2 separate regions of the Homo sapiens genome follow, and region 1 is linked to region 2. A link means that fine-mapping ties the variant in region 2 to the expression of a gene that starts in the linked region. Tissue or cell type: whole blood. Region 2 holds a variant in brackets; the other region holds the start of a gene. All regions are shown on one strand. Distances are between the middles of the regions.

Region 1 (8,104 bases), 57 kb before region 2:
TGGCCAGGCTGGTCTCGAACTCCTGACCTCAAGTGATCCATCCGCCTCGGACTCCCAAAGTGCTGGGATTAGCCTGGCTGATTACTTTACATTTTGAAAAGATCACTGCTTTGTGGAGAGTGGGTTATAGGGCAAGTGTAAAAGCAAGGACAGTAATTAGGAGAGTTTTGTAAAAGTGCAAATGTGAGAAATGGTGGGGGATGAAATACTAGGGCAGCAGAGGTAGAGCTGGTGAGAGGATATTCTGAAGGCAGGACTTCATAACGGAGTGGTGAGGAAAACGATGGAATCAAGGATGCATCCTGGATTTTTTTTAACAAGACACACTAGGTTAGACATGAGATTGGGAAAACTCAGGGAGTTGTCCCCCTGAGGGACAAGGGAAACTCGAGGTTTTTGGCAGTGTTAAATATGAGCTATTAATTGTCCATGGGTGGCGGAGGTTGCAGTGAGCTGAGATCGCGTCACTGCACTCCAGCCTGGGTAACAGAGCAAGACTCCATCCCCCAGCACCAGAAAAAATGCAGGAGCGAAGGAGATAGGATCCACAGCACAAAGGGAAGAACTACCCTTTAACACATACAGAGACATTTCACAAGGACAGGAGGAAAGAGCAGTATTTAAACACAAAGAGGTTGACCAGGAGCAGTGGCTCAGACCTGTAATCCCAGCACTTTGGGAGGTCGAGGCAGGCAGATCACTTGAGCTCAGCAGTTGGAGACTACCCTGGCCAACATGGTGAAACCCTAAAAACACAAAAATTGGGAAATGCATGTTCTAGCTTTCTGTGTGCTTAGGTGCCCATGCTACTGAGGGTCTAAGTCCAGGCAGCCGAAGAGTGTGGTGAGCAAGATGAACAAAGATGCGCAGATGAGAGAAGCCATTAACATATTAAAGTAATTTAAAGTTTGGGTGGTCTGGATATCATACTGTTTTAGCCTAGATTTTACTCTGGATACTTTTCAGAAGTAGCTGGCACTTTAAACCATATGTTCTATTAAACGTTCTTTCCAAGAAATATCTTGAGTGATCCCAAGGAAAACTGGACAAGTGGAATCTCTGTCTTTCAACTTTGGGATAGTGATTATACCTCTGTTAGTGCTCATCCACCTAACAAAGCTTGGCAATCCAAGTTAGTATCCCAGGGGAGTTTAGTTTGGTTGGATGGTGGAAGACTGATTTTTTTTTTCCATTTAGCACTGTCTAGCCAAGAGACACCACTATTTACAAGTTCTTAGACAGCTGAAAGGAAAATAAAAATGCCTAATTTGTGGAGGAAATCAGGAAGTCTAAAAATCCAAGAAAAATATTGCAACAGAAAAATGAAAGCTGACTTCATCTTAAAGAAACATGGCTTACAGGTAGAAAATGCCAATATCAGGCCGGGCACTGTGGCTCACACCGGTAATCTCAGCACTTTGGGAGGCCGAGGTGGGAGGATCATTTGAGGTCAGGAGTTCCAGACCAATGTGGCCATCATGGTGAAACCCCATCTCTACTAAAAATACAAATATTAGCCAGGTGTGGTGGCACATGCCTGTGATCCCAGCTACTCAGGAGGCTGAGGCATGAGAATTGCTTGAACCCGGGAGGAGGTTGCCATGAGCTGAGATCGCGCCACTGCACTCCAGCCTGGGTGACAGTGTGAGACTCCCTCTCAAAAAGTAAAAAATAAAATATCAATATTGTATCTTCAATAATTTACCTTTCATATGGTCTAAAGAGGTTTTTGTTTTGTTTTGAGACGGAGTCTTGCTCTGTTGCCCAGGCTGGAGTGAAGTTGTGTGGTCTCGGCTCACGGCAACCTCTGCCTCCCGGGTTGAAGCAATTCTCCTGCCTCAGCCTCCCGAGTAGCTGGGATTACAGGCTCCCCCGACCATGCCCGACTAATTTTTGTATTTTTAGTAGAGGGAGTTTCACTATGTTGGCCAGGCTGGTCTTGAGCACCTGACCTCGTGATCCGCCTGCCTTGGCCTCCCAAAGTGCTGGGATTACAGGTGTGAACCACCACGCCAGGCCAGGTCTGTTTTAAAAATATAAAGTCGTTATAAAGAACTCTCAAGTGTGTTGCAATAAATGCTGGATTGACGCTGTTAACAAGAATAAACTAGAACTTATAATATATGCCATGTCAGAGAAGGAACTAGATTCCAGAAAACAGAAGGTAGTTCTCTTTTACCTTACTGCCTAATGCTAGTGTCAGAACCACAGTAAAGCCAGCAACATTTGAGACCAAACCCGAGGACAGTCCTCAGGATTTTACAGGTGAGGGGCCTCGGCTTCAGGGAAGTGGCTTGTGAAACACCTTTTTGAGGGACCATTATGTAATAGCTAGAGTTGCTTTCGAAAAAAGAAATAGCCTCGAGCCGAATGGGGAGAGAACATGGGGCATTGCTATTGGGTTCACAGCTGTCTTGGGCTAATCAGGGCAAAGCGTAGCACTATGACCTATGCAGAGTTAGCTCGCCAGGGACAGTAGCTATTCTAGAGAACCTTTTGCTTTTAGCTTTGTATTCTAGGATTGGGTGAGGTGAGGGATGCGGGCGCCCATCCCACGTGTGACAGTGGGAAACTAATGGAATTCAGGGAGTTCACTTCCCGGCTCGCACTCCGGGGGCGGGAGGGTGCTGCCACCGCCTCAGGTCGCGCGCTCCTTAGGCTTCCCTCTCACGGTTAGCGCTACGGCTCCAAGGCTGGCGCCTGCTCTTCTTCATCTCCCTCCCCGGCCCTTGGCAGGAGCCTCGCCCTACATTGGCTCTTCAAGTCCGGGCGTCCCCTTCATGTGGGAGACACAGCCCAGACCATTCCATCGCCCTGGATTCTGCCCGGACCAGCGACCTCGCCGGACTGAAGATTTCTCCAGCAAGATTGTTTTAAATAAAGTTTTTGCCATCAAAAAAAAAAAAAAAAAAAAAAAAGGAGATGGGAAGGAGAAGAGGGAGGCCTAGTCGCCAAATGGTTGGCCAATCCGCCGCGAAGGGGCTGAAGCAGGAAGCGGCGATAGTCGTCGGTAATTGGCTGCGCTGGAAGCCTGTCTGGACTGTACCACCTCAGTAGGAGAGGGGTTGCTGAATTCGAGAAGGTAGCTGCTTGCTTTTGAGTACTTCTAGTACACACACATAATTCTTTTCTTATTTCCGGGGGTTTTTGCTTGGATTCAGTGGGAATACAACAGGACGCAGGAGAAGGGAAGACTCGCCTGGCCATTTCCTCATTCCTGACTCCTGTGCATTAGGCCAATCCTTGTCTCTTAGTTGTCCCCGCAACCCCACGGCCTTACGTGCGCGCTCTCGTCTTCTCGCGTGCGTACGTCGTTGTGTTGCTGCAGCCAATCAGGCCGCGAGGTCGCCGCGGTCGCCAGGGTTCGCGCGCACGCCCCAGATCGGAGTCGGGGTGGGGGCTATGGGTGAATGGGAGAGTGAGCGGGGTTGGGCGCGGCAGCGCGAGCCGCATGAATGAGACAAACGTGCGCCGCGCGAGACGTCGCGCGAGCCCGGACTAGGGAGCCAATGGGAACGCTGGAAGGGTTCGAGACCCGGCACTGAGGGCAACGGCCGCGCGCCGGCTCCGAGACGAGCGACGCCTGGCGGGAGCGCGCGGCAGCGGGGCGGGCGTGGAGCGTGCGGGGGCCGCGCGCTGCTTCTCTGAGGCAGGACGGCACTGCCGGGAGGCGGCGGTGACAACGACGGCGGTGGTGACGGGCACCGGGCTCGCGGGTGAGTGCGGAGGACACCGGTCCCTGCGGAACCGGAAGTGCCGTACCAGCGAGGTGGGAGGGGAGGGTGACCTCTAGGGAAGGGGGACCGAAGACGGGGAGGGTATTAAGGCCCTATTTCTCCTCCGGGCCGGGTCTTCCAACCGCGGCGGGACCCATGGGCCTTGGAAACGGACGACGAGTAGAGGCCGGGGATCCACGACCGCCAGGGCTCGGAACGGGTTAGAGACGGCCACTCAGCTCGAGACCGCGGTCCCCGGTGCCTGGCGCCCAGCCGCCGCCCCTTCCGCCCCCGGCCCTGCGCCCTCGGGCTCTGCGGTCCCCGCAGCCCGCTCTCTCAACCTCGGTGGGCCTGGCCGCCGTGGATTCCTTCTTTTCGGTTTCAGCGGTCGTCAGCCCTGCCCCAACGGGTGATTCTCCTTTCCCCAGTCCCGTGGTGGGGACCGGGTGCTGTTTCCCTTTTACCGCTCTGCGGTTCGAGTCCCTCGCTCCACTCTGCTGATACTTATTTTGGCTCAAGCTTCATCCTGTTACCTGTTCTCTCTCACCCGTCCGCTTCCTCCTCCTACCGCCACCAGCCGAGTGCTCCATGCGTTTAGTACTTTGTACTTTTTAAAGTGGAGCCCGAATGCGTTTGTCAATATTTTACCTATATTTGGGGCAGGCAGGTGGAAAGTGTTTTACCCACTTGGCCAAATGAAACACTGAAATAAGAAGTAAGAAAGTTGCTAAAAGTTAGGAAGGCAGTTGTAGGATCACATATACGTTATACGCTAGACTATTTTTTGCCTTGGATTCTTCACTTCCTGGTTAATGCCATCTTGACCAAGTTGATCTAACATTTGCATATCATCCTTCTATCTCAGTATACCTCTGTCCTGGATCAAATATCTTCAGAATGCTCATTATCACCCATTGTATAAACTTAATGTTTACAAAATTATATTGCCATGTATTTTGCTACCTCGGTATATAATGATAACACCCACATTAAACTTCTTGGCTCTTTCTCCCATACCTTGACATGTGAATTATTCCATGGTACCTCCATTACTGTGCATTTAGATTTACTCTATTGTACTGTTACACCGCTTATTTCAACAAAAAATAGTTGTGTTGTCCTTGGTACTGCTGGTATCCACCTATTTAAGGAAATACCTGTATTAAACCTTATTAAAGCCTTCAAACCACATATCCTGTATTGTTTGTTTTACATATACATATTTCCATTTCATAGTTTACTCTGTGCCTCAATATGGCATACATATTACTTTTTTTCTCATTTTTGAGACGGAGTCTGGCTCTGTCGCCCAGGCTGGAGTGCAGTGGCTGCTATCTTGGCTCACTGCAACTTCCACCTCCCGGGTTCAAGCGATTCTCGTGTCTCAGCCTCCCTAGTAGCTGGGATTTCAGGCATGCCCCATCACGCCCTGCTCATTTGTTTGTATTTTTAGTAGAGACAGGGTTTTGGTATGTTGGCCAGGCTGGTCTCGAACTCCTGACCTCAAATGATCCGCCCGCCTCGGCCTCCCAAAGTGCTGGGATTACAGGCGTGAGCCCCCGTGCCCAGCTGGCATACATATTCTTGTATACTTTTTTGATACTAGTATGGATTCAAACTGTTGACTCTGATGAACCATACTCACCCTTGTGGTTTCATCCTAGTATCTGCAGCACATTCTTTTGCTAAGAATTGGTTCATCTTTATTTATACCCAATAAATTGTTAGGTTTTTGATTTCCCTTCTACTGTGTAGCCCCCAAGCATCTCAGATGCTGTTCTCTTTTGTGTTCCCAGTATTATACTCCCAAAATTGCATGGCCTTTCATGACTCTGTATTACTATGTCAATATTAGTCCATGTGACTTTTTTCCTGTGGAAAATATATGAAACAATATATAGTATCTAAATGATATTCTACTCTAGATAAAATTTAAGTAGTATAATTTTCCATCTTTTCTAGTCTTTGGGATTTTGAGGGAAAAGTTTGCTTTAATAGTACATATTGGCTGGGCAGAGTGTCTCACACCTGTAATCCCAGCACTTTGGGTGAGGAGGCAGATCACCTGGAGGTCAGGAGTTCGAGACCAGCCTGGGCAACATGGTGAAACCCCATCTCTACTAAAAATACAAAATTAGCTGGGTGTGGTGGTGCCCTCCTGTAATCCCAGCTGCTCGGGAGGCTGAGACAGGAGAATTGCTTGAATCCGGGACTCGGAGGTTGCAGTGAGCTGAGATCACACCATGCACTTCAGCCTGGGTGACAGAGGGAAACTGTGTTTCAAAAAAAAAAAAAAAGTACATATTGTCTACAAATCAAGAGTTTGCTTTTGTTAACAAAGTTACTGAGGCCTACATTCCAAATGTTAGGCTTCCATTCCTGTAGGAAACTGAGAGTTAAATAATCATTAAATCAGGGACTAGAGAGGATTTATGTTTTCTAGGACTATAACAGTTTCTTAGAATCTTTTGGCGCTCACTGTATTCTAATACTGCTGTTTGGCCCTCTGAAACCCTAATTTTAAAGAGAGAAATGAATCGTAAGGGAAGGCACCTTTGCCTTCCATGCCATAGGTGAGAGAGGAAGTGGTACATTATAGGGCACATTTATATTTTGTTATCTGAATCTTCTGATTTTTTTTTTTTTTTTTTTGAGACAGAGTCTTGCTCTGTTGCCCAGGCTGTAGTGCAGTGGCTCACTGCAACCTCCGCCTCCTGGGTTCAAGTGATTCTCCTGCCTCAGCCTCCTGAGTAGCTGGGACTACAGGCGCCCGCCCGGCTAATTTTTGTATTTTTAGTAGAGAAGGGAATAAAACTACTTTCTTTTAAAATTCTAACTTAAAATTTTTGGCTTGCAGATTCCAAGTTATCATCTCTGGGCAGGTAGTGGATGAAAAGGTAGAAAGGGTTTGTGTCACCAGAGGGGCATGTGACCTCTTGAGTTCTGAACCTGAGGTGATTCAGTGGAATGTCCTCGGGCATTCTGTAGCCTTCAATTTTAAAGAGTGGGATAAGGGACTGCGTCACCAGATAATGTGAGTAAAGTGCTTTTAGATCACCAGATGAAAAGCATTTTATAAAATCCCAAGGTGCTGGTGTTAGTTTGTTATTGTCATCAACAGAAATAATTGTTACTTTTAATCATATTGGGGCAGGTGGGGCTCAGTTACCTTAGGCCAATATAGGAATAATAAACTGTTGAATTGGGAAAAAAGAACCAACCCTATGCTATGCTTATTCAGTTTCTCATAGAGGGCATCATGGCTTTCTCTGCAAGAACATTTCTTACCCAGTGTTCTAATGGGTGATTCCAAAAGACCAAAAATTCAGCTTCTACCTCTTCAGGATTGTAACTAAAAAGCATAGAGGAGCAAAAGAAACACACAGAGAAAGAAAATGAGACTTGCTTTCCTAATTTTGAGGTTAATTTTTTTCTTTTTTCACTATAACAATAAACACTCTTCTTGTCCAAAGAGAAATCTTTGTTCTAGGACTGCCCTTCACTGCTGTGCCCTTGTTTGTGATTTTGATATTCTTGGTATTTGTTACTACCATCTATGTCAGGTGAGATGGGCCCCTTACAAGAGCTAGTCCTTTGATGTCCTTTGGCCAGGTGAAGCCATGTTCTGCTTCCAATCTGAACAGAGCAAAGGATTCTCAAGTCAGTTTTCCTCTGAATTCAGAGTCCCTTCTTACCCACATACATGTAAGTGAAATGGAAAACAGTCTTTCTTTCAGAAAGTACTTTTTAACAGCAGCCTGTGGAATTTTAGCCTTGGTGTCTAAGAAATACCCTGAAAGAATTCTCTGATAAAGATACTTGTTTTTCTCCAGGTGAGACACAGTAACCTGGTTGAACTCTGCATCTGGAAAGCTGAAGACTGAAGAAAGATAAGAGACATTGACTAGTCTGGAAACAGGGACATCTTTGGAACTTCGTTTTCATCCACAGTAAACTTTTGAAGTGTCATCAATTGGAATTGATTTCTTCATCTTATTCTGCCTATTGGGAAGAACATGGCTTCAAGGATTTTAAGTTTCCCTTTAGTTTTACATGAACTTTGTAGGAAACAGAGCCCTTAAAGGGCTTGGGAATAACAAGAAGAGATTGAAGACAGAGAAGCTTGCCCTGTTTTCCTTGCCCCTTCAAAGAAAAGGATTTACAGCTCAAACTTAGAACAGCTGTTGTCCAGCTTTAGCCATCAAGAGAGAAATAAATTAAACCACCATTGCCAGACTACAAGCCCTGGTGAAGTCAGGGTGTGGGAGTGGTGGCATTGAGAAGACTACCTAAAAGAGACAAAGACTGCAGTAAACAAAGCTCCTCTTTAAAGTTGGAAGGGGCCTCAGGTTCCTTCTTGGATTGAAATAGAAATAGAAACACAGGGC
Region 2 (8,103 bases):
TGCCTGCAATCCCAGCTACCTGGGAGGTTGAGGCAGGAGAATTGCTTGAACTGGGAGGCAGAGGTTGCAGTGAGCTGAGATAGTGCCACCGCACCCCAGCCTAGGTGACAGAGTGAGACTCCATCTCCAATCAATCAATCAATCAATGTTTTATTTAAATAAATAAATAAAGTTTTTTTTTTTTTTTTTTTTGAGATGGAGTTTTGCTCTTGTTGCCTAGGCTGGAGTGCAATGGCTCAGTCTCGGCTCACCACAACCTCAGCCTCCTGAGTAGCTGGGATTACAGGCATGTGCCACCATGCCCAGCTAATTTTGTATTTTTAGTAGACATGGGGTTTTTCCATGTTGGTCAGGCTGTTCTCAAGCTCCCAATCTCAGGTGATCCACCAGCCTCGGCCTCCCAAAGTGCTGGGATTACAGGTATAAGCCACTGTGCCTGGTCTAAAATGTTTTTTAAATAAAGCCAATTTACTTAGCGACTTAAGCCAATAAGCCTTCTTCATGGAAAGTCTCAGAGGTAATTTTCTAGGTTCAGAATACCAGATGATATAACCCTCACATTCCCCCAAAATATTTACTTTCAAAAATAGGCTAAGATAGCGAAAGACTCTTGTTTTCATAGACAGTTAAGGATGGTGTTTATGTGTGTGTTTCCTGTAGTATCCCACCAATACGTGGGGGGCTGCTAATCATAGACCTATTAATTTGAGACACCAGCTAGGCCCTCCCTGGATTGGACTTGCCCAGGACTAACCAGGCAATAAGAGTTGAGATTTCTTCCTTCTCACTGAAGTAATTTTATTTATTTATTTTTTAAATTAATTTTAAAAATTGAGGGGGGAGACAGGGTCTTGTTCTCTTACCCACGCTACAGTGCAGTGGCATGGTCGCAGTTCACTACAGCCTCAACCTGCTGCACTTAAGCCATCCTCCCACCTGAGCCTGTCAAGCAGATGGGAGTACAGGCACGTGCCAACATACATGCCCAGCTAATTTTTAAAAATCATTTGTGGAGAGGAGGTCTCACTGTGTTGCCCAGGCTGGTCTCGAACTCCTGAGCTCAAGCGATCCTCCCACCACAGCCTCCCAAAGTGCTAGGATTACAGGTGTGAGCCACCGCACCCAGCTTCAGTGAAGGAATTTTTTTAAAAGGAGAAGAAAAAGATAAAAGAGTTGAGACAATAAAATCAGGTGTGAGTCACTGCACCCGGCCCTCTTTCTCTTTTGAAAAGGCCTTGAAAGATGGCTCTCTCCTTCACCTTTTGTTGTGTCCTGTAACTTTTACTAATTATCTAAAGTAAGGGAGAAAAATTGTTTTTGAAAACAGGCAAATAAAGTATCTTTTGAACATGGCTTTTATTCTGCATGCCTGTTATATCTGTATCTTTATATGTGTCATATAGAAGTGATACTTTACTGCCAAACTACATGAAAGAGCTCTAATCAAGTAATTTAAAAAATGTAAGTGCTTATCACATTGGTAAAAGCTAGCTCAGATGCCTTTTAATTTACATAACCTTGGTAAAACTCTCCAGTGATTTAAAAATCTTAAAGTCATGTTTAAACCCTCAAGTTTTTTTTTCCCCCACTGGAAATTTGGGTTACTAGAAGTTAAGATAGTAGAAACATAAAATATGCTTTTATTAAAATTTTATTGGCTGGGGTGCAGTGGCACAAGCCTATAATCCCAGCACTTTGGGAGGCTGAGACGGGTGGATCACCTGAACTCAGGAGTTCGGGACCAGCCTGGTCAACGTGGCAAAACCCCATCTGTACAAAAATACAAAATTAGCTGGGCGTGGTGGCGTGTTCCTGTAATCACAGCTACTTGGGAGGCTGAGGCAGGAGAATCCCTTGAACCCGGAAAGCAGAGGTTGCAGTGAGCTGAGATTGTGCCAATGCACTCCACCCTGGAGGATAGAGCAAGACTCCGTCTCAAAGAAAATAAATAAATAAATAAACACACGGATGTCAACTCTCAAAAAAATGTAAGTTTCTTTTTTGTTAAGAAACTAAGTGGCTTGGGCTGGGTACAGTGGCTCACGCCTGTAATCCCAGCACTTTGGGAGGCCAGGGCGGATGGATCACCTGAGGTCAGGAGTTCGAGACCAGCCTGACCAATGTGATGAAACCCCATCTCTACTAACAATACAAAAAAAATTAGCTGGGTATGGTGGTATGCACCTGTAATCCCAGCTACTTGGGAGGCTGAGACGGGAGAATTGCTTGAACCCGGGAGGCGGAGGTTGCAGTGAGCCGGGATTGTGCCATTGCACTCCAGCCTGGGCAACAAGAGCAAAACTCCGTCTCAAAAAAAAAAATTCATCGCAAAAAAAAAAAAAGAAAGAAAGAAACTAAGTGGCTCACGCCTGTAATCCCAGCACTTTGGGAGACTGAGGCAGGCGGATCACAAGGTCAGGAGTTCGAGACCAGCCTGGCCAACATGGTGAAACCCTGTCCTACTAAAAAAAATACAAAAATTAGCCGGGCATGGTGGCGAGTGCCTGTAATCCCAGCTACTCGGGAGGCTGAGATGGGAGAATTGCTTGAACCCAGCAGGCGGAGGTTGCATTGAGCTGTGATCACACCACTGCACTCCAGCCTGGGTGACAGAGCAAGACTCTGTCTCAAAAATAATAATAATAATAATAATAATAATAATAAGCTAAGAGTTGCTTTATAATGAAGAAAATTATACAGATAAAACTAAATGGATTTTTTTTTTTTAAAAAGGAAAACAAAACAAGCCAGGGCAACAAAACTCTGAGCCCTATGGTTACCAAGAAAATAGTCAATATAGGGGAAGGGCAAAACCAAGTAACTATTTAAAACCAAAGGGTGTAATGTAAAGGAATTGTTCCATTTTGTAGATTGGTATCATTCAGCTTCTTTTTTTAAAAAAAACTTTAGTGGATTGTGAAAATAACTGCTTTAAGGACAAAATTCTTAATTTTAAATGCTACAGAATTTAAGAGCTTGTTTGAATTAATGCAGGACCCAGAACTCATTACTGAACAGTCACTGAGTATATATGATCCAAACGCAAAGGGGGTTTATTCTTGAAAAAGCAATCAGCCTAGTGGGCCAGATAATGCCATTATAAGGTCTCTTTGCCCTGAGAAGGGAACTGCCCAACTCTCCCTTTAAAATACCAAGTGAAGTACCCCAGATGAAGCAGTTAGTATGTTTCATATACAAGCCATGTTGCACTAGCTTTATGATAACTGGGATATCCTCCCACCAAATATGTCTATTACCCAGGTCATGGTAAATTTGGAGGTTAAGAGGGCCCGTTTTACATGGGTGCCCTCCTACAGAATCATAGGTCTGTTTAAGAAGCCTTACCAAATATCCTGTCCCTCATAGGTCTTACAGATGCAACCCCATGCTGGGAACGCAAACCCTTTGTACCAGAAAAGGTAAAATGGTCTGGGGATTAAAAAAAAAAAAAAAGGCTTCCTGGGACCAGAACATAAAAACATACAGGTTAATAGAACTGTAAAATGTAAGATGTTTAAACAAGCTTTATCTAAGGTAGTTGTAACCCCTTTTACCTAAATGTCTTATGAAAATGGGTACT[A/G]TAAGGCTGGGCATGGTGGCTCACACCTGTAATCCCAGCACTTTGGGAGGCTGAGGCGGGTGGATCACAAGGTCAAGAGTTCAAGATTAGCCTGGCCAAGGTGGTGAAACCGTGTCTCTACTAAAAATACAAAAATTAGCTGGGTGCGGTGGCAGGCGCCTGTAATCCCAGCTACTCGGGAGGCTGGGGCAGGAGAATCACTTTGAACTCGGGTGGCAGAGGTTGCAGTGAGCCAAGATCGTGCCACTGCACTCCAGCCTGGGCAACAGAGTGAGACTGTGTCTCAAAAAAAAAAAAAAAAAGAAAGAAAAGAAAAGAAAATGGGTTCTACATCTAATTGGGGGATGTTTTCCCCTTTCTAGTACTGTAAAACTGAAGATGTAAATCTGCTCATGTAAATCCTCCATTGCATAGCCTTTTGTGTGGAGCATTTATCGGGGCTGATGGCAAAAACTAAGCCCTGACTTTTTAAGTGCAGATTAAGCCATTATTTATCTCTCCCTGTTTTACTTCCAAGGAAACCGAAATCATGGTATTCTGAAGACTAGAAACATGAATCTCCCTCATTTGGTATCCCACTGACCCTGGATCTGTTTCACTGCTAATGCTCTGCTGCTAAAACTATACAAGCTGCCTCCCTTTGGGCCAGGGCACATGAGGTTATAAGGGCTGGTTTTGAGGGATAAAATTAGGTCAAGATTGGCTGGTCGAGGTGGCTCACGCTTGTAATCCCACCACTTTGGGAGACCGAGGCGGGTGGATCACTTGTGGTCAGGAGTTTGAGACCAGCCTGGCTAACAGAATGAAACCCTGTCTCTACTAAAAATACAAAAATTAGCCAGGTGTGGTGGCACATACCTGTAATCCCAGCTACTTGGGAGGCTGAGGCAGGAGAATCGCTTGAACCCAGGAGGTGGAGGTTGCAGTGAACTGAGATTGTGCCACTGCACTCCAGCCTGGGCGACAGAGTGAGACTCTTATCTCGAAGAAAAAAAAAAGGTCAAGATTAAACCCTCCAAATCAAGAAGGGGGTACTAAAAATGCCCAAACAGCTGGTAAAACAAAATTGGTTGCCTTCTAAACTATTATGTGTTACTTCTGCATCCACCCCAACCATAAAAATTTTCTGCTTACTATAAAATTAAGGAAAAATATTTACTAACATTATAAAGTACCATGGAACAAAGCCTCCTGGGTATAATACTCCAAATTATAAGTCGTGAAGATAAATATATCTACAGATACAGATATGTATATATACATATTTTAAATTATTTCTCAGAATGATGCTTATGTTTTGTATAGCTAATTGCTATAAGTCTGTAACAGAAACCAAGCTTACAGTAGCTCCACATAAAAGTTAAAAATAAGTCAGTCTGCCGGGCGTGGTGGTTCACTCCTGTAATCCTAGCACTTTGGTAGGCTGGGGTGGGCGGATTTCCTGAGGTCAGGAGTTCGAGACCACCCTGGGCAACATGGTGAAACCCCATCTCTACTAAAATACAAAAAATCAGCCAGGCGTGGTGGCATGCGCCTGTAGTCCCAGCTACTCAGGAGGCTGAGGTAGGAGAATTGCTTGAACCCGGGAGGCGGAGGTTGCAGTGAGCCGAGATCACGCCACTGCACTCTGGCCTGGGCGACAGAGCCAGACTCCATCTCCATAAAAGATAAGATTAAAAAAAAAACAAGTCAGTCTTGTAACTTTGTTTTTTGGGTTTATTGTTGGCTTTTTTTTTTACTTAATAATTTTAAGAAGTAATGAATGCCTGTCCACATCCATTCCTATATGGCCTAAAACAATTGACTATAAGTCTTTTGACTCTTAAGGCCCTCAGCCATAGGGAGTCCTGCCAAGGAAAAAACACTGTAGAATTATATGACTTCTCCTGTGACAAAACCTTTTCTCCCAAATACCAGTATATGGTGCAATACAAAAGTTGTGGGAAAAATAGGTTTCTACTTTTAATAAGTCTGTAACAATTTAAACACCAAGGACCAGGCATTTCTCCCATTTAATTTATATCCTCCCTCAGGATGCTATACCTATGGAGATAAATTGGCGGAAAGAGAGATTAAATTTATTACATTCTAATTTAATGTTGGTATCACAATTTTCAAATAAGATTTATCACAGGGTTCAAATAACCCTTATTAAGGAGTACAAACACACTGTAAGTCTATTCAAAGAATAGATGATGCATGCAGGGTTTTTCCTGGCTGATTGGGTTGTTTACTGCCCTCAGATTCTACCTATAACCCTGAGTGCCCAAATCTTCACTGTCTTTATGATATTTGTTATTATATTAGCATTAGGCATTTCTTGTAAATATTATGCCAGATACAGCAAAAGGCAAAGGCACAGTTAAAGACCCGGATCATAATAGCTCAGAAAATAGATCTGATCCGGGATTTTTTTTTAGACTAAGCCTGACTCCATTTCACCCCTTAAACAATTGGCTATTACATCAGGTCAGACCATGTCCTCCCCCCATTATCCAAATCGCTAATATTTAAAACTATTACCATCAAATCAAAGGACTCTAGAAACAAGCCTTCCTAGTCCTGTGGGACCCTGCCAGATAGCCAAATCAGACAACTCTAGGAATGAGGTTTCCTAGCACGTTGGGACCTGCTGGTGTTTGTTGGTCTACACATACATTCTATGGAATGCTTTTTGGCCAAGAGAGGGGACTGAGGACTAAGCTATGATTTTTTTTATCTTGCCCAAATTCCTTTCTAAGGGGTCTGGGTAATCATGCCCTAAAAACCATAAATTCTCATCAGATGGGTTTTATTTAACCCTGGATATCTATTGTGACTTACTTTCCTATCTGACTCTGGCATAACAAGGAAGAAACTAAAAATGTTTTACCCCAAAATCTGTTTCCTTCCCATACCTTGAAATTGCCCTACAAAGTCTCTTCTGGGAAAAATCCACATTCTGTAGAGAATCCCCTCTCCCCTTTGTTTTCCTTCCTTCTCAGATCCAGGAAATAATCAACTAAGAGCTAGGCACCCTTTTAAGTCCAATAAGAAACGATTTACAACCTGCTCTCTCTGAAGTCCGCTGAGAGCTTCCTCTGCACAATAAAACTTGGCCTCCTCAATCCTTTATCATAACCTGAACATTCCTTTCTGTGAATCCCAGGTCTTTAGACAAACTCAACCAATTGTCTGCCAGAAAATGTTTAAATTTACCTACAGCCCCGCTTTGAGTTGTCCTGCCTTTCTGAACGAAACCAATGTATTTCTTAAATGTATTTGATTGATGTCTCATGCCTCTCTAAAATATTAAGCTCTACCCAGACCACCTTGGGCACATGTTCTCAGGACCTCCTGAGGGCTGTGTCATGGGCCATGGTCACTCATATTTGGCTCAGAATAAATCTCTGAAAATATTTTACAGAGTTTCACTCTTTTTTTTTTTGAGACGGAGTCTCGCTGTGTCGCCCAGGCTGGAGTGCAGTGGCGCCATCTCGGCTCACTGCAAGCTCCGCCTTCCGGGTTCACGCCATTCTCCTGCCTCAGCCTCCCGAGTAGCTGGGACTACAGGCGCCCGCCACCATGCCTGGCTAATTTTTTATATTTTTAGTAGAGATGGGGTTTCACTGTGAGTTTGACTCTTTTTGGCAACAGTAATATGGCTCCCAACGTTGGCCTCAGAGAAGACTCAGAACCCCAAAGGAGTTGCCCGAGACTGGAGGTAAGGTACCAGCAGGGGCCCATTGAAGCCCCACTGAGTTCGAGCTTCTCCTTCGGTGGAACTGTTAAGTCGTCCTGAGCCCCGGACCTCCCTTCAAGGGCTGATGGTTCTTGATTTTTTCTGAGCTGGTTTTTTGCTAGGAAGTTGTTGTTTAAGGATCCTGATTGTAGTTTGGGTATGCATTCTGAAGGGAATTCTCTATTGCTTTTTCTCCTAAAATTTATCTTGATTCGGTTCATCTGTGTCCATTTGTGTGAGGAACTGAACTGTTGCTTTCATAGAGACTGAGTTTTTCAGCTCTGAAGAGAAAGGGTGTTTGCTCTTCCCAGCTGAAAGGTGCCCCTGGGTGACTGGGGGCTTTGTGGGAGTGTCCAGGGGTTGACCCCCAAGACGTACAGCGGCCCTAAAGGGAAATCCCTTTAGGGATTAATCCCCAAAAACAATTAATTTAAAAAATGGCTCATCCAGGAAACACACATGAGGGCTGATCACCCAGCGTTTTGAGCCCTCTCAGAGGTCACAGACCTCTGGAGAGAGACACTTAAGAGGGCAGAAACGACTCAGTGGTGACACTGTGGAGTCCTGCCTGCAAGCAGCACGCATCAATCCACCACACATCAATCCACCACACAAGAACCCTAGGCTACAGCTCAGCTCCTCTAAGGAGAAAAAAAAAAGGCGAGAAACAAATCTAAGACTAAGGAGAAAATGAGGAGAATGTCCCCTTTTCGGGTCCTTCATAGGTTTTATGGCACCTCTACTTGCCAGAATTGATATAAAATGGAAGTAATATGGTCTTTGTGCACATTTGCATTAAGAA

Evidence for each region. PIP is the estimated chance that this variant, and not a neighbour inherited with it, causes the effect.
Region 1: ZDHHC5 starts here. The variant in region 2 is fine-mapped to the expression of ZDHHC5 in whole blood (INTERVAL, PIP above 0.99).

The regions. Positions count from the first base shown.
Region 1 is chr11:57,664,472-57,672,575 of GRCh38, forward strand. ZDHHC5 (zDHHC palmitoyltransferase 5) reads left to right here and starts at 3,643. Exons shown (of 12, transcript NM_015457.3): 1 at 3,643-3,716; 2 at 7,550-8,104. RefSeq lists enhancers at 2,695-3,274, 3,444-4,083, 4,084-4,721, 4,275-4,344 and silencers at 3,475-3,714, 3,965-4,164.
Region 2 is chr11:57,721,174-57,729,276 of GRCh38, forward strand. The region is part of intron 1 of TMX2 (thioredoxin related transmembrane protein 2); the gene reads left to right. All of the region lies in intron 1 of TMX2-CTNND1 (TMX2-CTNND1 readthrough (NMD candidate)), which reads left to right. Among named protein-coding and RNA genes, the nearest start is that of TMX2, 13 kb to the left of the region's middle. RefSeq lists enhancers at 3,814-4,315, 4,316-4,815. The variant A/G (reference allele first, on the strand shown) is at 3,581.